5 linked regions of the Homo sapiens genome follow. The protein of the gene in region 1 purifies or fractionates together with the protein of each later gene. This does not show direct contact. Each region holds a gene or a part of one and is shown on either strand. Other genes may lie near its edges. The genes, in order: CGREF1, HS3ST1, LMAN1, PLEKHG3 and TNKS2.

Evidence for each region.
Region 2: the proteins of CGREF1 (region 1) and HS3ST1 purify together in Homo sapiens (affinity purification with mass spectrometry; one large-scale study listed by BioGRID and IntAct). This does not show direct contact.
Region 3: the proteins of CGREF1 (region 1) and LMAN1 purify together in Homo sapiens (affinity purification with mass spectrometry; one large-scale study listed by BioGRID and IntAct). This does not show direct contact.
Region 4: the proteins of CGREF1 (region 1) and PLEKHG3 purify together in Homo sapiens (affinity purification with mass spectrometry; one large-scale study listed by BioGRID and IntAct). This does not show direct contact.
Region 5: the proteins of CGREF1 (region 1) and TNKS2 purify together in Homo sapiens (affinity purification with mass spectrometry; one large-scale study listed by BioGRID and IntAct). This does not show direct contact.

What each region holds. Positions count from the first base shown.
Region 1 is NC_000002.12:27,116,314-27,120,421, reverse strand, and holds the start of CGREF1 (cell growth regulator with EF hand domain protein 1 isoform a precursor), read left to right. Parts: upstream 1-1,293; 5' UTR 1,294-1,576; exon of another isoform or gene 1,577-1,647; intron 1,648-2,936; exon of another isoform or gene 2,937-4,108. UniProt on the Homo sapiens protein: Mediates cell-cell adhesion in a calcium-dependent manner. Able to inhibit growth in several cell lines.
Region 2 is NC_000004.12:11,422,378-11,425,894, forward strand, and holds part of HS3ST1 (heparan sulfate glucosamine 3-O-sulfotransferase 1 precursor), read right to left. Parts: intron 1-3,517. UniProt on the Homo sapiens protein: Sulfotransferase that utilizes 3'-phospho-5'-adenylyl sulfate (PAPS) to catalyze the transfer of a sulfo group to position 3 of glucosamine residues in heparan. Catalyzes the rate limiting step in the biosynthesis of heparan sulfate (HSact).
Region 3 is NC_000018.10:59,338,763-59,342,279, forward strand, and holds part of LMAN1 (protein ERGIC-53 precursor), read right to left. Parts: intron 192-3,517; coding exon 1-191. UniProt on the Homo sapiens protein: Mannose-specific lectin. May recognize sugar residues of glycoproteins, glycolipids, or glycosylphosphatidyl inositol anchors and may be involved in the sorting or recycling of proteins, lipids, or both.
Region 4 is NC_000014.9:64,735,411-64,738,927, reverse strand, and holds part of PLEKHG3 (pleckstrin homology domain-containing family G member 3), read right to left. Parts: intron 2,076-3,517; coding exon 2,037-2,075; intron 1,573-2,036; coding exon 1,553-1,572; intron 187-1,552; coding exon 73-186; intron 1-72. UniProt on the Homo sapiens protein: Plays a role in controlling cell polarity and cell motility by selectively binding newly polymerized actin and activating RAC1 and CDC42 to enhance local actin polymerization.
Region 5 is NC_000010.11:91,857,409-91,860,925, forward strand, and holds part of TNKS2 (poly [ADP-ribose] polymerase tankyrase-2), read left to right. Parts: intron 1-16; coding exon 17-122; intron 123-2,053; coding exon 2,054-2,240; intron 2,241-3,517. UniProt on the Homo sapiens protein: Poly-ADP-ribosyltransferase involved in various processes such as Wnt signaling pathway, telomere length and vesicle trafficking.

The sequences.
Region 1 (4,108 bases):
ATTTCCTCTTTTGATATGAACACCAGTCATATTGATTAGGGGCCCACCCTACTCCAGTATGACCTCATCTTAATGGATTACATCTGCAATGACCCTATTTCCAAATAAGGTCACAGTCTGAGGTATTGGAGGTTAAGACTTCAACATATAACTTTGTGAAGGACACGAGTCAATGCATAACAGTGATGGGAGCTAGGTGAGCAGATGAGCACATGAGCAGATGGAAAGTGAGGAGAGGGCCCTGAGGAACTCTGACGGTGAAGAAAATGGAGACCTTTTTGAAATGACCAGAGGTAGGAGAGGTATTGCCGAAACCAGCAGAATCCGTGATCTAAAAAGGCAGTGACAAGCAGTGTTCATCACTGGGAGGAGGACAGGATGAGAGTGGGCTTGTCGCTGTGATGACAGTGTCGCTGTGATGGAGTGTCACAAACAACTCAGGAAGAGTTCACCCTGACACCCCAATACATATGCCTCTAACACTCTGCACCGCCACACCCCTGGGCAGTCAGTCACACATTGGCCATACCCTGAAGCCCACACTATCATTTATTTTTTATTTATTTATTTATTTATTGAGACGGAGTCTCAGTCTTGCTTTGTCACCCAGGCTGGAGTGCAGTGGCGTGATCTCGGCTCACTGCAAGCTCCACCACCCAGGTTCATGCCATCCTCCTGCCTCAGCCTCCCGAGTAGCTGACACTACAGGCGCCCGTCACCATGCCCGGCTAATGTTTTTGTATTTTCAGTAGAGACGGGGTTTCACTGTGTTAACCAGGATGGTCTCCATCTCCTGACCTCGTGATCCACCCGCCTTGGCCTCCCAAAGTGGTGGGATTACAGGTGTGAGCCACCACGCCCGGCCCCTGAAGCCCACACTATCACACGGATGCACAGTCACACAAAATACCCCCTACCGTGTCACAAATTCCTCATACACAGAGCCACACATGCCAGTCACAACCGCACATGCTAACAGTAAGTTAGGTTCCATTTTGTCACATACATCTGGGTCCCTCAGGCAGAGAAAGTGGCAACCAAAGCATGAGCACAGTTAAACATACTTCTGATGCACACTGGCCTCACTGTCTCTTGGTCTCTCTGTACTCACATGTGTGCATACAGGCACACGCACACATCCGCGCACACATGCACGCTCACACACGTGCATCCTTACACATGCTCACACTCACGCTCACAATGTCACACGCATGTGCACACCCGCACAAGCACACGAGCGCACTCACGAGCACACGCGGACTCGCACACGCGCACATGCGCACTCACGCACGCACACACGCGCACACTCACACGGGCGCGCGCAGCCCCTCCGGCCGCGGGCGCAGCGGGGGCGCTGGTGGAGCTGCGAAGGGCCAGGTCCGGCGGGCGGGGCGGCGGCTGGCACTGGCTCCGGACTCTGCCCGGCCAGGGCGGCGGCTCCAGCCGGGAGGGCGACGTGGAGCGGCCACGTGGAGCGGCCCGGGGGAGGCTGGCGGCGGGAGGCGAGGCGCGGGCGGCGCAGCAGCCAGGAGCGCCCACGGAGCTGGACCCCCAGAGCCGCGCGGCGCCGCAGCAGGTGGGTGACACCCCGCCCCGGCCGGCCGGAGACCCGAGCCCATCGCCGTCAGCCAGCCAGGGCCGCGCGGGGTAGGTGGCCTCCAGCCTCTGGTCCAGATCCCGAGAGCGCAGTCCCTCTGCATCCCCTGCGGCTCAGACGCGGCGGGAGCAGTGGCCCTTGCCCCTGTGTACCCTGAGGGCAGGTGGAGGAAGGGACTGGAGAGCGAGCCTGAGGCTCCTTGGTGTGAATTTGGGGCTTCGCAGTTCCCCAGGCGCTTCCCCCAGCCCCGCATTCCGTGTTCCAGCAGTCCTGGGGGAGGGGCAGCTGGCGGGAGCTTTCCCCCTCATCCGACGGGGAAGAAATGGAGCGCTGGGGAGGGCCCGAGGCTGTCGTCCGCTTGCAGGTGGCCGAGGGACCAGCTCCCGGGTGTGGGCTCCTCTAGCCCTGTAGCCGCTGTCTCCTTTCTTGGGGGATGGGTGCTGGGAGGCACAAGGGCACCAGAGGGATAAATTAAGAATTAAGGGAGAGGATTCTACTCAAAATTTTAGCTTCCCAACAGTTCGACTCTACAGGAGATGGAACTGCCGGCCTGTGAGGTGCTAGGTTCCTGTCCTGGAATGATTCAAGCAGAGGCCATTTGACAGGGTTGCTGAGGAAGAAATTTTTGCTTTGGATGGGAAGTTACCCAGGATAACCCTGCAAGGCCCCTGCCACAGCCCAGAGGCTCTGAAATACCCAAGCAGCACCTGCTTGGTGCCAGGCACCTACCCTAAGTTTTCTCATTGCAGCCTCCCCAAACCTTTAGGAGACAGATACCGTTATCCTCATTTTTAAAATGCAGATCCCGACCAGGAGCAGTGGCTCACGCCTGTAATCCCAGCACTTTGGGAGGCCGAGACGGGCGGAACACGAAGTCAGGAAATCGATACCATCCTGGTTAACACGGTGAAACCCCGTCTCTGCTAAAAATACAAAAAAAATTTAGCCAGGCGTGGTGGCAGGCGCCTGTAGTCCCAGATACTCGGGAGGCTGAGGCAGGAGAATGGAGAATGGCGTGAACCCGGGAGGCGGAGCTTGCTGTGAGCCGAGATCGTGCCATTGCACTCCAGCCTGGGCGACAGAGCGAGACTCCGCCTCAAAAAAAAAAAAAAAAAAAAATTCAGATCCCAGGGCTCAGAGAGGTTAAGACACCTGCCTAGGTCCCACAGTGAGTAGTATCAGAGGCAGGATTTGATCAGAAGTCTAACCTGTAGAGCGTGCTCTCCTCCCATGCACTGGTGCAAAGGCTTGAAGAACACTGGGGCCGGAGGGTCATTGTGAATGTGTGAGTGCACGTGTGTGACATAACTTTATTAAATTACATGGCAACTGTTAACAGTTATGGTGGCTTTCATGTGTTTATTAGGGTAATTATGTTCATGCACATTATAGTTATAGAAAATGGTTAGGGACATTTTTATTGGACAGGCAGTGGTTCAATAACTATTTTATTTCTCTCACAAAAGCTTTTGTTAATGTTTAGAAATGTCTAAGTGTCAACACATCGCACTAACCTCATTACACATTACATGAGGTGTCTTAGCCTTTCCTTAAACCACTGAGGTGGGTTACTTGCACTAAAATGTCACAGTTGGAAGCATTACTTAGAATATTGGCCAGGTGCAGTGGCTCATGCCTGTAATCCCAGCACTTTGGGAGGCCAAGGTGGGTAGATCACTTGATCAGGGGTTCGAGAACAGCCTGTCCAACGTGGTGAAACCCCGTCTCTACTAAAAATACAAAAATTAGCCAGGTGTAGTGGTGCACACCTGTAATCCCAGCTACTTGGGAGGCTGAGGCAGGAGAATCGCTTGAGCCTGGGAAGTGGAGACTATGGTGAGTAGATTTTGCGCCACTGCACTCCAGCCTGGGTGACAGAGCGAGACTCTGTCTCAAAAAAAGAGAGAGAGAGAGAGAGAGAGAGAGAGAGAGAGAGAGAGAGAGAGAGAGAGAATAGGCCTGGCCTGGTGGCTCATCCCTGTAATCCCAGCACTTTGGGAGGCCAAGGTGGGCAGATCACCTGAGGTCAGGAGTTCAAGACCAGCCTGGCCAAGATGCCGAAACCCCATCTCTACTAAAAATACAAAATTAGCAGGTCATGGTGGCACATGCCTGTAATCCCAGCTACTCGGGAGGCTGAGGCAGGAGAATCGCTTGAACTCGGGAGGTGGAGGTTGTGGTGAGCTGAGATCGCGCCATTGCACTCCAGCCTGGGCAGCAGAGTGAGACTCTATCTCAAAAAAAAAAAAATTATACTGAAAGTCCACATCATTTACTTTTTTTTTTCTCTCTCTTTTTTTGAGACAGTCTTGCTCTGTGACCCCAGCTGGAGTGCAATGGCACAATCTTGGCTCATTGCAACCTCTGCCTCCTGGGTTCAAGCAATTCTCGTGTCTCAGCCTCCGAAGTAGCTGGGATTACAGGCACGTGCCACTGTGCCTGGCTAATTTTTATATTTTTAGTAGAGATGGGGTTTCACCATGTTGGCCAGGCTGGTCTCAAACTCCTGAC
Region 2 (3,517 bases), on another chromosome or scaffold:
CTGGTGGGAGAGTGTGAGAAAGTAAGCAAATAAGCCAATCCAGTAACAAGGTGACTCCAGATAAACATACTTGCTACCTAATTATGTTACTGAAGAAATTATTACCATGAAAGAAAGAAGGTGATGAAAGGGAAATATTCTTGGGATGGTCCATCTCATGAGACAGGCAGAGACTCGGTTATTTATCTGACTCCCATACTAAACTGTAAATTCATCAATGACAAGAACTATTTCTTAATATCCTGCACAACTGCCTTGTGAACGACAATCAATAGCAAAGGTAGGGGCAGATTTGGGAGAAGGTGTACCAGAGTCTCCAAGGGCACAAGCACACTTTACACTTGGAACACATTTTTTAAAAATAAATACTTTTAATAATGCAAAATGAAATTTTATAATAAAAATGTCATTGCCAGATAAAGAAATTAAAGCCTCAAAAAAATTTCCGTGGACGATGGGAGCAGGCTTAAAGTAAGTTAATAAGCACAGATGTAAACTGTTCCTGGAACAAAACAAATGATCAAGTTAAAAGGTGCTCAGGAGGCTGAGATAGGAGAATCCCTTGAACCCAGGAGGCAGAGGTTGCAGTGAGCTGGGATCACGCCACTGCACTCCAGCCAGGGCAACAAGAGCGAGACACCGTCAAAAAAAAAAAAAAAAAAAAAAAAAAAAGTGCTGAACGTCAGAGTTCTGAGTATGAAAACTCAACAATTAAGGCATCCTTACCACAGTCCTCAATCACTGTAGTTGCCTAATCATTTGAGATCATGTTTAATGTATTTCATGCTGGTCTATAATTTCCTTGCAGAGTAGTCCTTGACTGGTTTTGTTCATCAATGTACTCTAACACGTAATGCAATGCCGGGTACATGGCAGACAATAAACGTGCTCAATAGTCAGTTTTATTAAAATTGAGAGTATAGCTCAATATCCAAAACTACCCAATGGATGATAGACCCAGGATACAATCAAACTCCCACATAGAAAATATTTTATGTTGGATAATGAAATTTAACTTTGGGTTATGTTGAGCCAGAGACTGAACTGCAGGCTCCCTGGCTAACAGCCTAAGGTTTCTCCCCAGTATCCTGATATTTCCTATCACTTTCCTCTAGTTTTTATTTTTTAATCCTTAGCACATCACTATCTAACTAGGAGAGATTCTGCTTATCTGTCTTGTGTTTTGTCTGTCTCCTCTGCTGGAAGATAAGCACAAGGGCGAGGACTTCCATCTGTTTTGTTCCCTACTGTGTCACCGGTGAGCAGAACAATATGCGGTACATGGCTGGAACTCAATAAACGTGTTAAAGGAGTAAACATGATTGCTGTAACCACTTGCAGAGATAGGAAGAAGGAACATCCCGAACAGAGGTTCACTCTGTAAACAGTAACTAACTAGAGCACTGTCTGTGCTCCATGTCCCTACACTCTTGCCTCGATATTCTGAACAACATGCCCTCCTGAATTTCATATTCCAAATTTCCCTCATATCCCTGGAAACCAGAGGCCATACATTGGAGGCCTGTGTGACAGATATAAGGCTTACACACAGAAATGTTTGGTTTGGCCCACATGGTGTTATTTAGGAATATCGAATTAGCTGCTGGCACTTGAAAGTGAGTAGATTTTACATAAAACTGTGAATTGACAGTCTATCTTGAAAAAAAAAAAAAAAAAAAAACATAACCAGGTCTGGCAAGACCAGACCTGAAGTCCCGCCTGCAGCCCCTGTGCTGGATCTGGGCTACAACCCCCACTTACCCAGGCACAGGGCCCAAGTCCTGTTCCACTCAAGCTGTTACTTGCCTGGCTGCTGAAGACATTAGAGTTTGCGACCCCTGCTGGAAAACTACCAAAAAGCATAATGTATTAGAGAAAAAGAAAGATGCCCACTGGGATCTATTTCTGTTATGTTTAGAGTATTGCTTGGAAGAATAATGTATTCATTTTTCTAGACCTCTTGTAGTAGCACATAACTATTGACAAACTACGGCCCAGTAGATATTATTCTAACGATCTGAAAAAGCTACAGACTTCATTCCCCATGGGTAGAGGAAGCTAAGGATGTTTCATGCTGGAGACAGGCCTGAAGATGAATGGGGAGAAGCTGTACATCAGTGGGTTGCAATTCTGGCTAAGTCAGGGAGAAAGGGAATTCACTTGAAGACTATGGGTTGCCTCTAGGAATTGCTGAGAAGCTGAAAAGCCAGGATTGGAAAATGAGAAGGAATGAAAGGAACCTGGGCACCAGAGGCACATCAAGATGGTGTTGCAGAAAAGGCACCTCTGGGACCACAGCTTGGGACATGCATACTGCTGCCAACGCCACTTGATCCATGATCCAAGGTGGTAAATAAACACTCCAATGTCCCTGTGCCCTTTAGCTAGTCTTTCAAGATTCCAGGCCCCAGGTGGGATCATTCAACTAAGCCCTAGTTCAGGGCTGGGAGATATGGACAAGGAGAAAGAGGCCCATCTCCCACAAAAAAAAAAAAAAATCCTTCTATGAAGGGAAGGTTGTGTTCCCTAAATAGGATGTTTGGTTCCAACTGCTTAGAAGGGTTTTAAGTGAGTCTGAAGAGAGAGGGCACTACAAGCACGACTGTAGAGTGGAATAAGAACAGACAGGCCTGAATTCTAGTCTGGAATCCTTTGTACCTTTAGAAAATTAATTAAGTTTTCCGATCGGCAGATTCCAAATCCTTAAAATAGAAATGACGCCATCTGCTCTCCAAGGTTGCTGTGAAGATTCAGTCCAATCACTCATTCAATTATTCCAAATATACTTATTGAATGTCTAAGTGCCAGGCAGGCACTGAGTTAGGTTCTGGAGACACGTTTGGAACAACACCTAAAATGCAATGATGAGGAGCCAGTGCATTATGCTGATGAAAGATTCAGACAAGGGGGACCCGGGTCATCTCGTGACACTGGTCATGTTTTACTTTTCCCCAGTGGAGTCACTCCCCATTTGTGACTTTTCTCCTTTTTTAAAAAAATTATTAATTAACATCAGGGCCCTCTCTTCAAACAGATTTTCTTAAGACATGTAATGTGTATTATGTTAAAAGGAAAAACACTCTAAAAATTGACTGTGATCCTGAAAACAAGAAAGGAATCATTCTGAGAAGTAGTGAGGCCCGGTGCTTGTAGCATTCAGGTGGAGTGATCACAAGAAGAGACTGGCCAATTAAAAGAAATCTCTCCCACTTAATGTTTAGCATATGTCATTTACTCAGACATATGCAAACTATGATTAAAATGAACATTAAAATAGATCTACGATAAAACTTAATTTTTTGTATTTTTTACCCTTTACAATTGCACAAGTGTTCTCCAATCGGCAAGATGCATTTCATATACATTTTCTCACTTTCTTATAATAATCTTTTCATCACTGTTTTGCAGAGGAAGAAATTTAGGGTCAGGGAGGGAGAAATTGTTGCCCAAGGTCATGGGGCAAGAAGTTGGCTTTAAATCCAGCTAGCACTCTCCTGCCTTCTGCCATAAGAAAAGA
Region 3 (3,517 bases), on another chromosome or scaffold:
CCCATGCTGCCCAGGCATTCCTGCTCCTCTTTTAGAGATTTCCTCTGTTAAGGAAGAGACATATCTTCTCTGTTCATCAAGAATCATATCTAACTGCCGGTTCAGCTGCTTGATTTCAAGATGAATACGATTCTGTCCTTCAAAGACTTGTCTTAGCTCTCGATCTCCTACACTCTCAAATATTTCCTCCGCTGAAAAGGAAATAAATAAAAATGATCAGAGTCACCTACACATATGTAGTTTTTGAAATAACGTAAGTGACCAAAGTGCCAACATTCAGCAAAATTAGGACATCACCATCACAGTGGTACAATCTCCCAAACAGAAAATATGCAAATAATTAATTCAATAATGATTAAATTATTTGTTTTCTGCCATTTCAGGTGATTGAACACTTATTATAAACTGGGTTTAAATTTTTTTATTTAAAAACAATTTTTCTTGGATAATCTCAGGAGGGATCAAAATGGCTAACCAGATGCAAGTAGTATGTACCTCCTCCACGGAGAAAAACCAGAGTAGTAAGTAGATACTTGCATTTCAAATAGATTGCCTAGGAGAGAATGCTAGGATTCATCAGAGAAGAAATGGGAAGCACCAAAATAAGGAGAGAGTTTGAGGCAGCTTGCCCAGCCAGGAGCTGACTGAGCACCAGAAGGGCTCCTAGATGATGGGAAACAGTAAGAGAGAAAACCCCAGGGCCCTGCAGTCCAAAATGGGCTTTTATGATCCTGGCTACAGGAGAAACCTCTGACCCACTAGGGCTGTGGGCTGGACATATGGAACTGCCTAAATATTGCACAGAGATGTTGCTCCATAAAGGGAAACCACATGGAATCCCACAGGCATTTGAGCCTACAACAGCTCCAGTTGGGCACCACTGTTGATAGCCTAGATACTGGGGATCTACAGACATGGCTGCAGTCGCTGCAATGTTCCAAGGAGAGAAGGGGGGACACTGGTCACTCCCATGCACCCCTAGGAAGGTCCCTCCTGCCTTGCTGAAGGGTGCTGCTGATACTGAGACATGAGTAGACAGCACTCCCCACAGCTTCTTGCCCATGCTGCTTGCCTGGAAGGGACCCTACCCTCTCTGGTCCCAGACCCAAGGTGAAACACTGAGAGTTTAATGGAGGGTTGTGCCCCACCCTCAGGCTATGTTTGGGCTGACAAGGCTGTAGCTACCACCTGGCCAAGGAGAGACAGGAAACAGGCTCTCCTATGCATATCTAGGACAATACCCACTGCCCTGCAATGGGCTCTTGTGAAACTGAGATGTGAGCAGACTGCACTCCTTACAGCTTCTTGCTCATGACACCTGACTAGGAAGGGCCCTGCTCTCCCTGGTCCCAGGCACAAGGCACAATTTTGAGAGTTTCATGCTGGGCTGTGCCCTATCCTTAGTCCGAGTTCAAGTTCATATGGCTGCAGTTGTTGTCTGGCTAAGGAGAATAACTAAGAAAATAATTGATGAGAGCTTCCCAAGTCTAGCAAAAGAGTTAGATGTCCAGATACAGGAGGCCCAGCAATCCCCAGAAAAATATATTGCAAAAAGGGTTTCACTACAGCATATTGTATTCAGAATGTCTAAAGTCAATGTGAAATAATTTTAAAATTAGCAAGAGAGAAGTATTTAGTCACTTATAATGGAAATTCCATCAGATTAACAGCAGACTTTTCAGCAGAAGCTTTACAGGCCAGAAAGGAATGGGCATTCTCAAAGTGCTAATAAAAGAAAAAAAAAAACTGTCAGCCAAGAATTTTATATCCTGCTAGAATCAGCTTCACAAATGAAGAAGAAATAAAGCCTTTCCCAGACAAGCAAATGCTGGGGAAATCCGTCATTACCAGACCAGCATGACAGGAAATGCTCAAAGCGGTCTTAAACATGGAAACAAAAGGGCAATATTCACCATGATAAAAACAGAAATATAAAATAAAAGTTCTTATAAAACAATCACAGAGGGGAGGAAGATGTAAGAATCAAATGGCAACATGACAGAATTTCATCAAATGACAAAGACAAAGATGGAAAAAAGAAAGGAACAAAGAATTTATAAGACAACTTGAAAATAATGAACAATATGACAAGAACAAAGCCTCATATATCAATATTAACCTTGAATGCAGATGGATTAAATGTTCCACTAAAAGATACAGACTGGCAGAATGGATTAAAATACATGGCACAACTATATACTGCCTACAAGAAACTTAGGTTATTCATAAAGACACACATAGACTGAAAGTAAAGAGGTGGAAAATAATAGTCCAAGCAAATGGAAACCAAAAGTGAGAGGAGTAGCTGTACTTATATGAGATAAAACAGACTTAAAAAAGAAAAGACAAAGAAGGTTATTATATAATGATAAAGGGATCAATTCACCAAGAGGATATAACAATCCTAATTTATATGCACCCAACATTAGAGCATCAAAATTCAGAAAACAATTATTACGAGACCTAAAGAAAGAGAAAAACAGTAATACAATAATAGTGGGAGAATTTAACACCACACACACAACACTAGATAGATCGAGACAGAAAAATAACAAAGAAACATTGGGCTTAAATTGGACTTTAGACCAAATGGACTTAGACATTTACAGAACTTTCTACAATAACTATGGAATATACATTCTTTTCACCAGCACATAGAAGACTCTCCGACACAGGACTACATATTAGGCCACAAAATAAGTCTTAGCAAATTTTTGAAAATCAGAATCATATCAAGTGTCTTAGACCACAATGGAATGAATCTAGAAATCAATACTAAGAGGAACTTAAGAAACTAAACAAACACATGGAAATTAAACAGCATGCTCCTGAACATTCACTTTGTCAATGAAGAAATTAAGACACAAATGTAAAAATTTCTTGAAATGAATGAAAATGGAAACACCAAACCAAAACTGAAAAAAGCAGTGTGAAGAGGGCAGTTTACAGCATTAAATGCCACATCAGAAAGTGGAAAGATCGCAAACAATCTAACATTATTCCTCTGCAAACTAGAAAAACAAGAACAAACCAAACCCAAAGTTAGCAAAGAAAAGAAATAACAAACATAAGAGCAAAGCTAAATGAAATAGAGACCAAAAAAATTAATAAAGGATCAACAAAACAAAAAGTTGCTTCCTTGAAAAGATAAACAAAATTGATAAACCACTAGCTAGACTAGGCAAGAAAAGAAGAGAGACGATCCAAATAAACACAATCAGAAAAGAAGGAGACATTACAACAGATTCCACAAATACACAAAAGATCGTCAGAAACTATTTGAACACCTATATGCTCACAAACTAGAAAACCTAGAGGAAATGGATAAGTTCCTGGAAACACACAACTTTCTGAGACTGAAACAGGAAGAAACAGAACTCCTGAACAGATCAATAATGAGTAGCAAGACTGAATCAGTAGTAAAAAAAAAAATCTCTTAACAACAGCCGGGACTAGATGGACTTATAGCTGAATTCTATCAAACATATCAAGAAGAACCAATTCTCCTGAAATTATT
Region 4 (3,517 bases), on another chromosome or scaffold:
CCTATTTGCAGACTTGAAAATCTGGACTCCAAGTTCTTCCTACTATCCCCATCCCACCTGCTGGTCGCTCACCTCTGGCAGGGAAGAAATGGACTCGAAGCTCATGCGCTTCTCAGTACTGGTTGGAGACCGGCCACTGGGCCTTCTGCTGCTCCTGGAGCTTTCAGACTCCCTGCGCCCCTTTCCCTGCAGAGGTAGAGGTCAGTCATCAACTCCAAGACAACTGGAAGCTGATCCCTTCTGCATCCCAACACGGGCAGTGCCTCCCACGCCCCAAGGGGCTGGGCTGAGCTGAGAGCCAGTCTTGGACCTGAGCCATTCCAGAGCCAACCTGAACTGCCAGGCCTGGGGCTGCGGAAAGCCTTGTCAGGCATGCAGCTTCAAAAAACCTCAGCCCACCTTTCTGTCCCTCCAAAGTGGACTTGACCTTTCCAGCCCCACTGTGTGCTAGCTTCTCCCTGCCCCCACCACCCCACCCCACTTGTCATGCTTGTTGGGCGTTATATTGATTAGTGCCCAGTACTGGAACAGAGCATGCCAGGGGCTCACCAGGGTGTGACAGCGAGCGATGGTGTTAAGTGCTGAGGGGAGGAGTAAAACCAGGGCAGGGTGGGGTGAGGAGGGCAGCAGAGGGGGCCCTCGGGTGGGCATGCACATCCCAGGGAGCATGCAAGGAGGAGGGGAGATCGAAGAGACACCTCACCATAGCGCCCCGGGAGAAAAGTAAAGCGTTGGCCCGATAGTGCCAGCAGTGGAGGGCGGCCAGCAGGGAGCTGGCAAAGTCGGCTACCTGCTCCGCCACCGCCAGGCTCTCCTCCTGCTCCTCCTCCTCCTCCTCTGAGCCTGGGGGCTCCGGCCCAGCCCCCTTCTCGTTGCCTTCATGCCCTGTCAGGTCCTCCAGAGAGACCTGAAAGGCCTGCTCTTCCTCCTCCTCCTCCTCCTCCTCCTCCACCACCTCCTCCTCTTCCTCTTCCTCCTCCTGGGTAGCCCCTTCAGCCTCTGGCTGCAGGCCCCGAGTACGGGAGGGCTGCCCAAAGTCCAGGAGGGTTCCAGCACTGCCTGCATGCTGTTCAGAGCACAAGACCCCCTCGTGACCAGCCTCTTGGGCAACCTCCCGTCCTCCTGCAGGCAGCTGCGGGGGGGGAGCCTTCACACAGAAAGCCACACCTAGATGCCCAACTCAGGTTGCCACTGGGGTCCAGGGAGGGGTGGGCATTCTCATGGTGGAAAGGCTGGGACCTGGTCAAAACTTCAGAACCCAAACAGGCCTGCCTACTTGTCTACCCTAGGGAGAGGGAAATCTGAGTAGGTCCACACTGGGCAGGCCCCCAGCAGGGTGCTGTTCTAGGCAGAGGGTGCAGAAGGGCCCCCAGGGCAAGGCCCATGTCTTATTCATCTCTGTGGCCCTAAGCCACACAGCCTGGTACACAGTGGGTGCTTAGTAGGCATTTGTTGAATGAATGAAGACAATGAGGGCTGAAGGGGCCGGGGGCTGACCTGGGCAGTCCCACCCTCCTCTGTCAGCCAGTCCCCTCCTCCCACTGGCCTTTACCTTCATTCCTGCTGCTCGGGCTGCAGACATCACCACCGGGTCCCCCAGCACACGGGCGAGGGGCAGGGGAGGGGAGGGGAAGAGATCAGTAAGCAGGAAAAAGACCTCTGGACAGCTCCCTGGGGAAGTCCTCACTGGGGGCTCCTGCTCCCAGAACCCTCACCTAGTCTCCTGGGCTTTCAAAAGAATGACTGACAGAGCAGGGGCCCAGGGGCCACAGAGCAGCGCAGGTCTGTGCCTGTTGCTCGGCTCTCATTGTTTCCGGAGGAAAGGGCATGAGGCCTGTGCATGGGGGAGAGCTCCAGCCCCTCTCCTCAGCCAGCCAGGGGCGAGGCCCTCTTCTGGGGGGAATGGAGGCAGAGTTCCCTCTACACTATTCTGACAATCCTCCACCCTCAGGTCACACCCCAGGTTGTCGGCTGCTTCCCCTCCTCCCTCCTCCTCCCCCGCTCACTGGGAATGGCTGGCCACCTCACACACTCACCTTTCTCGTTGAGTTGCCTGAGCAGGTGTTTGGTTGGCTCTGAGGAGGAAAGCATGAGCAGAGTCAGCGCGGGCCAGGAAACTGCTGTGCCTGGCTGGGTCCCAAGCTCACAGCGCCACCAGCCCATCACCAGCTCAAAGTCCACTCTGGCTTGGCCCCCTGCAGTCATAGGCCCCAGGGAAGCTGCCTTCCACAGTGTCGGCGAGCCCCCTTGCACCTACGGACAGGGAGGCGGGCCCATCCATCTCCAGGACCCCCGCTGTGACTACCAGCCCTGCCGGAGCAGTACCACCCATGATGCAATGCATTAGGGCACCTGGCCCAGGGCCCTCGCGCAGGAGCCATAGGGAGGGGACTCAGTTCCATGCTACCCCCTTCAGACCAACTAGCAACATCTCCGGAGGTCCCTGGCTCCACCTCAAGCCCCTTGCCTCCCTGGCAATGAGCATATCAGCGCATCAGCTACACCCACTGCCAAGCCCCTCACAGCATCCCAGCTGGAAAGCAGAGGTCGCACCCGACTTTCTACGGCCCTTAAGGCTGGGCATCACGAAGCCTCGCTGACCGCTGGGGAGAGTTGCCCGGCTGTACGGAGAGTGACCAGGCTCTGGGGACAGGATACAAAACACATCCATTAGGCCAATGGTGTCATCACCGTGTACCCCAGCCTTTTTGAGGATACACCTGAGACTGGAGGGCAGGAATAAGAGGACCTTGTCTCAAGGTCCAGTTCTACAGAGCCTCGGCCTTCGCCTATCCATATCCTTGCCCAGCTGGCGGTAAGTGGGAGGCCCAGGGATCGCCATGATTTGCTACACACCTGGAGTCAGAAGGAAAGTCTACCAAGGTATCTTGCTGTTCCTCAGCAGGCAGGCCTGTTGAAGAACCTCTTTTCTGCTGACACACACAACATACATACACTATCTGTATCAATGTAAGTAAATGCCTAATTGTTTTTAAAGTGAAAAGTAGAAAATGTTCTATTCTTTCATTTTAAAACTTATCAAGAATATTTAATAAGTGAGACATAATTTAAATTAAACAATAGAACTTAATTATCAATAGAATACACTTGTCAGCTCATCTCAGCTCTCTGAGTGGGAAGCAGAAGCAGAAAAAACCTCAAGGAAGTCAGAGTAGATGGCTGAGCCCAGGCAGTAAAGTGCCTGCATGTGGCCCAAGTCCCTCCCTAGTGACTTTCCTGATCTTTTTGTGGTCTACAGTTCCCACAAGTTCAACAGATTGATTTCTTTTTTTGTTTTGTTTTGTTTTGTTTTTTTGCAACAAGGTCTCATCTGTCAGCCAGGCTGGGTGGGTGCAGGGGCACGATATCCATTCACTGCAACCTCTGCCTTCCAGGCTCAAGTGATCCTCCCACCTCAGCCTCCAGAGTAGCTAGGACTATAGGTGCACACCACCATGCCTAGCTAACTTTTTAATTTTGTAGAGATGAGGCCTCACTGTGTTGTCCAGGCTGGTCT
Region 5 (3,517 bases), on another chromosome or scaffold:
GGTTTATTTTTTATAGATTCAGAAGGTTTGTAACAAGAAACTATGGGAAAGATACACTCACCGGAGAAAAGAAGTTTCTGAAGAAAACCACAACCATGCCAATGAACGAATGCTATTTCATGGTAAGATTCCTCCCCACCAACTCTACCACTGTCTTCCACATTAGGATAGTTTTTTTGTTCAGATATGAAATAATAATAAGCCTGTATATTCTTTATGTCAGTATTTTAAGATAAACCTACTATTTCTGTAACTTTCACATTTATATTTTCAACTTCTTTTGAATTTGTGTATTTTATAATGGATTGTTTTTAAATAAGATTACCACAATAAAAATAGAAATGAGAGTGTTGACTATCTTTTCCTTTTTTCTTTAAATAGTAAATTTTGCTTATGGTCACTCTAGGAAATTTTGTGTTTTCCATTTAACTAGTTGATTGAATTAAAAATAAGACCTGGGAATCACCTCAGAAGAAGGTGTACATCCTATTCTGATTTTGATTCTAAGTATCAAACCCACACAATTTGAAAAGAGCCATTGTTATTGAACCTGTAGAGGTTTCTGATGACTGTAGAATTGAAACCATAGAATTGAATTGAAAGCACAATTACTTATTCTTCTTGGAATTTTCTACTTTTTTTGTATTATAAGCTGGCAGGTGTTGATTAGTCTTTCAAATTTTAGCAAAGTTAAACATATTAATGTAGTATTTATGAGGGCTTCAAGTACATTACCCATAGTAGTTCCAGTCTGTTTCTTCATTTGTCCTTGATTGCAGAAAAATTTTAGAGACCTGTAAAGTTCTCTAAAACACAGTAAATTTCATAATACCCTGGGAGAATGGCTGTAACAGAATGGATTCATGTGCAGAATCTAAACATGTTGCACTCCTTATTCCAAAACCCTAAATAATTATCATGATAATCTCTTGACACAGAGCATATTTATTTATCTGTTAATTGATGGTTATAATATGGTTTTTCTAATTTGTAATATAAATAATTTTGGTTTTCCCAAGTTAATTCAAAAAATGATTCTATTCATCTGTATTTCTGTAAAGTAGAATTCAGTATATTTTCCTGTCTGTCTGTGGAAAGGGAATGTGATCTTGATAAATGAATTAGCTGTGGTTTTTTGACTTTTTCCATCCCCCACTCTACTCCACTCCCAAGGAAAGAGGAGAGAGAAGTCAATGTGCAGGGGGTGAGGGAAAGCACCACATTTGCAGATAGAATCTTGTATCGTAATTAATGAAAGGCAGAAGTGGAAGGATAGAAGAGAAGAGGTATAAGAAAGAGAATAAGAATGTGAAAGTTGGGCCGGGTGCGGTGGCTCACGCCTGTAATCCCAACACTTTGGGAGGCCAAGGTGAGTGGATCACCTGAGGTCAGGAGTTTGAGACCAGCCTGACCAATATGTTGAAACCCTGTCTCTACTAAAAATACAAAAGTTAGCCAGGCATGGTGGTGTGCACCTATAGTCCCAGCTACTCAGGAGGCTGAGACAGGAGAATTGCTTGAACCCGGGAGGCAGAGGTTGCAGTGAGCCAAGATCATGCCACTGCACTCCAGCCTGGGCCACAGAGCGAGACTACATCTCAAAAAAATTTAAAAAAAAAAAGAATGTGAAAGTCTACTTGGGCCACTTGGTATCTTCAAAAAAGCACACAGGCATAGGCATCATTCTAAGACCTAATTGCATTTAGCTTTGCTATCTAAAGTGAATTATGAGCCTCTTGGTTTTAGATTTTTATGGATTTGCAGTCTGGCATTTGGTAACTCTTACACTGATATTTCAAGTACTCTGTTTTTCTAGTTCAATCTGTGTCCTTATTTTAGCACATAAACCAGCACTCTGTTAGAAACATTAGTTGATGTTAGCAGTTCTTTATTCTAAAATAGCTGGCTGACAGTTAACTTGTTACCCTTTTTCGTTTTGGCTTTATTATGGTTGGGCTATATATTTAAGAATTCAGTTTCTAAGAAACTAGTTTTTTACTTTTTATTCTAAGATAAATTTTAAATTATTGTTACCCATCTATATGTGTTTCAGGGTCTCCTTTTGTGAATGCAATTATCCACAAAGGCTTTGATGAAAGGCATGCGTACATAGGTGGTATGTTTGGAGCTGGCATTTATTTTGCTGAAAACTCTTCCAAAAGCAATCAATATGTATATGGAATTGGAGGAGGTACTGGGTGTCCAGTTCACAAAGACAGATCTTGTTACATTTGCCACAGGTAAGAGATCACTTGTTCTCATTTATTTTGGTGGTAATCAGATAAGAACTAGTTGCATTTTTGAGGGCAAAGCATTATGTTGGACAGTCTTAGGAATGCAAGCTAGGCATGTTTTAGATTGCTTTTGGCCCTCTCACCAATTGTAATAATAGCTAATATTTATTAAATGATCCGTATGGGCCAATTATAATTTAAGCACTTGACCTGTTTGGCTAATTTAATCATTAGAATATCTGGTGCCTTAAAGCATACTGAGTAGAAAGTAACATTAGGCATGAAAGAGGCTTTATTGTAGCCCTTGAGTATTGTAGGACTCTGTGGACTCTAAAAATCTAGTATTCAAATGCTAAAATGGCATTATTTGTCAAATCTAATTATTTGATGGCAGTGCCTGAGCCTCTCTTCCACTGTGATACGATCCTAATCCTCAATTTGCAATATTACTATAAGAACTTGAAATTAAAACATTGATCCTTTTTGAAAGGAAATAATAATCAAATAACTACTTTGCACTTTTTTTTTCCACTTTTAATTACCTGTTCTAACTCACTTGTTAAAAATCATTTAAGTAACTTGTCCCTAACTTATAAAATCCTTATAGGCAAAAAGTAATGCCACTTGAAAAATCCAGTAAGATTAATTCCTGAGATTTATTCGACAGTTAGGGCACTGCTTATTGAATATACAGAGCAGTAGTTTATCAAGCATTAGCATGCATTAGAGTCACCTAGATGGCTTGTTTAAATCACAGATTCTTAGGCTCCACCTTCTCAGTTGCTGATTTAGTAGATCTGGGATGAGACTCTAGAATTTGAGTTTCTACCAAGTTCCCAGATGTGACACTGTATTTCTGACCACTGATCTAGAAAAAAACCCCTAGAGCAGTACTTTGCACTTTGGCAGCACATTGGAATCACCCAGGGAATATTAAAAAACTATTAATGCCTGTGTCCCACCCTCACAGAATCTCTTTTAATTGGTCTGGGGCATGATCTGGATATTAGAATTTTTAAAAGCTTCCCAGTTGATTTCAAAGGGCTTCCGAGCTGAAGAATTGCAGTCATGGAGGGAAACAGGTTCTTTCTTTGTGTTTGTTTTGTTCTTACTGTTACCCCTCTAAATTTAGGCCTGCATAGGTAGTACACAGTAGGCCCTCCTATGTATGACGTCCCACTCACTTCTATTTTAGATCATAAATTGGAGTGGTTAGGAGGCATGTAATTTCCTGTAAATTGAACACTGCTGTTTTTATTTGTCATATATGGTCTGAAGGCTAA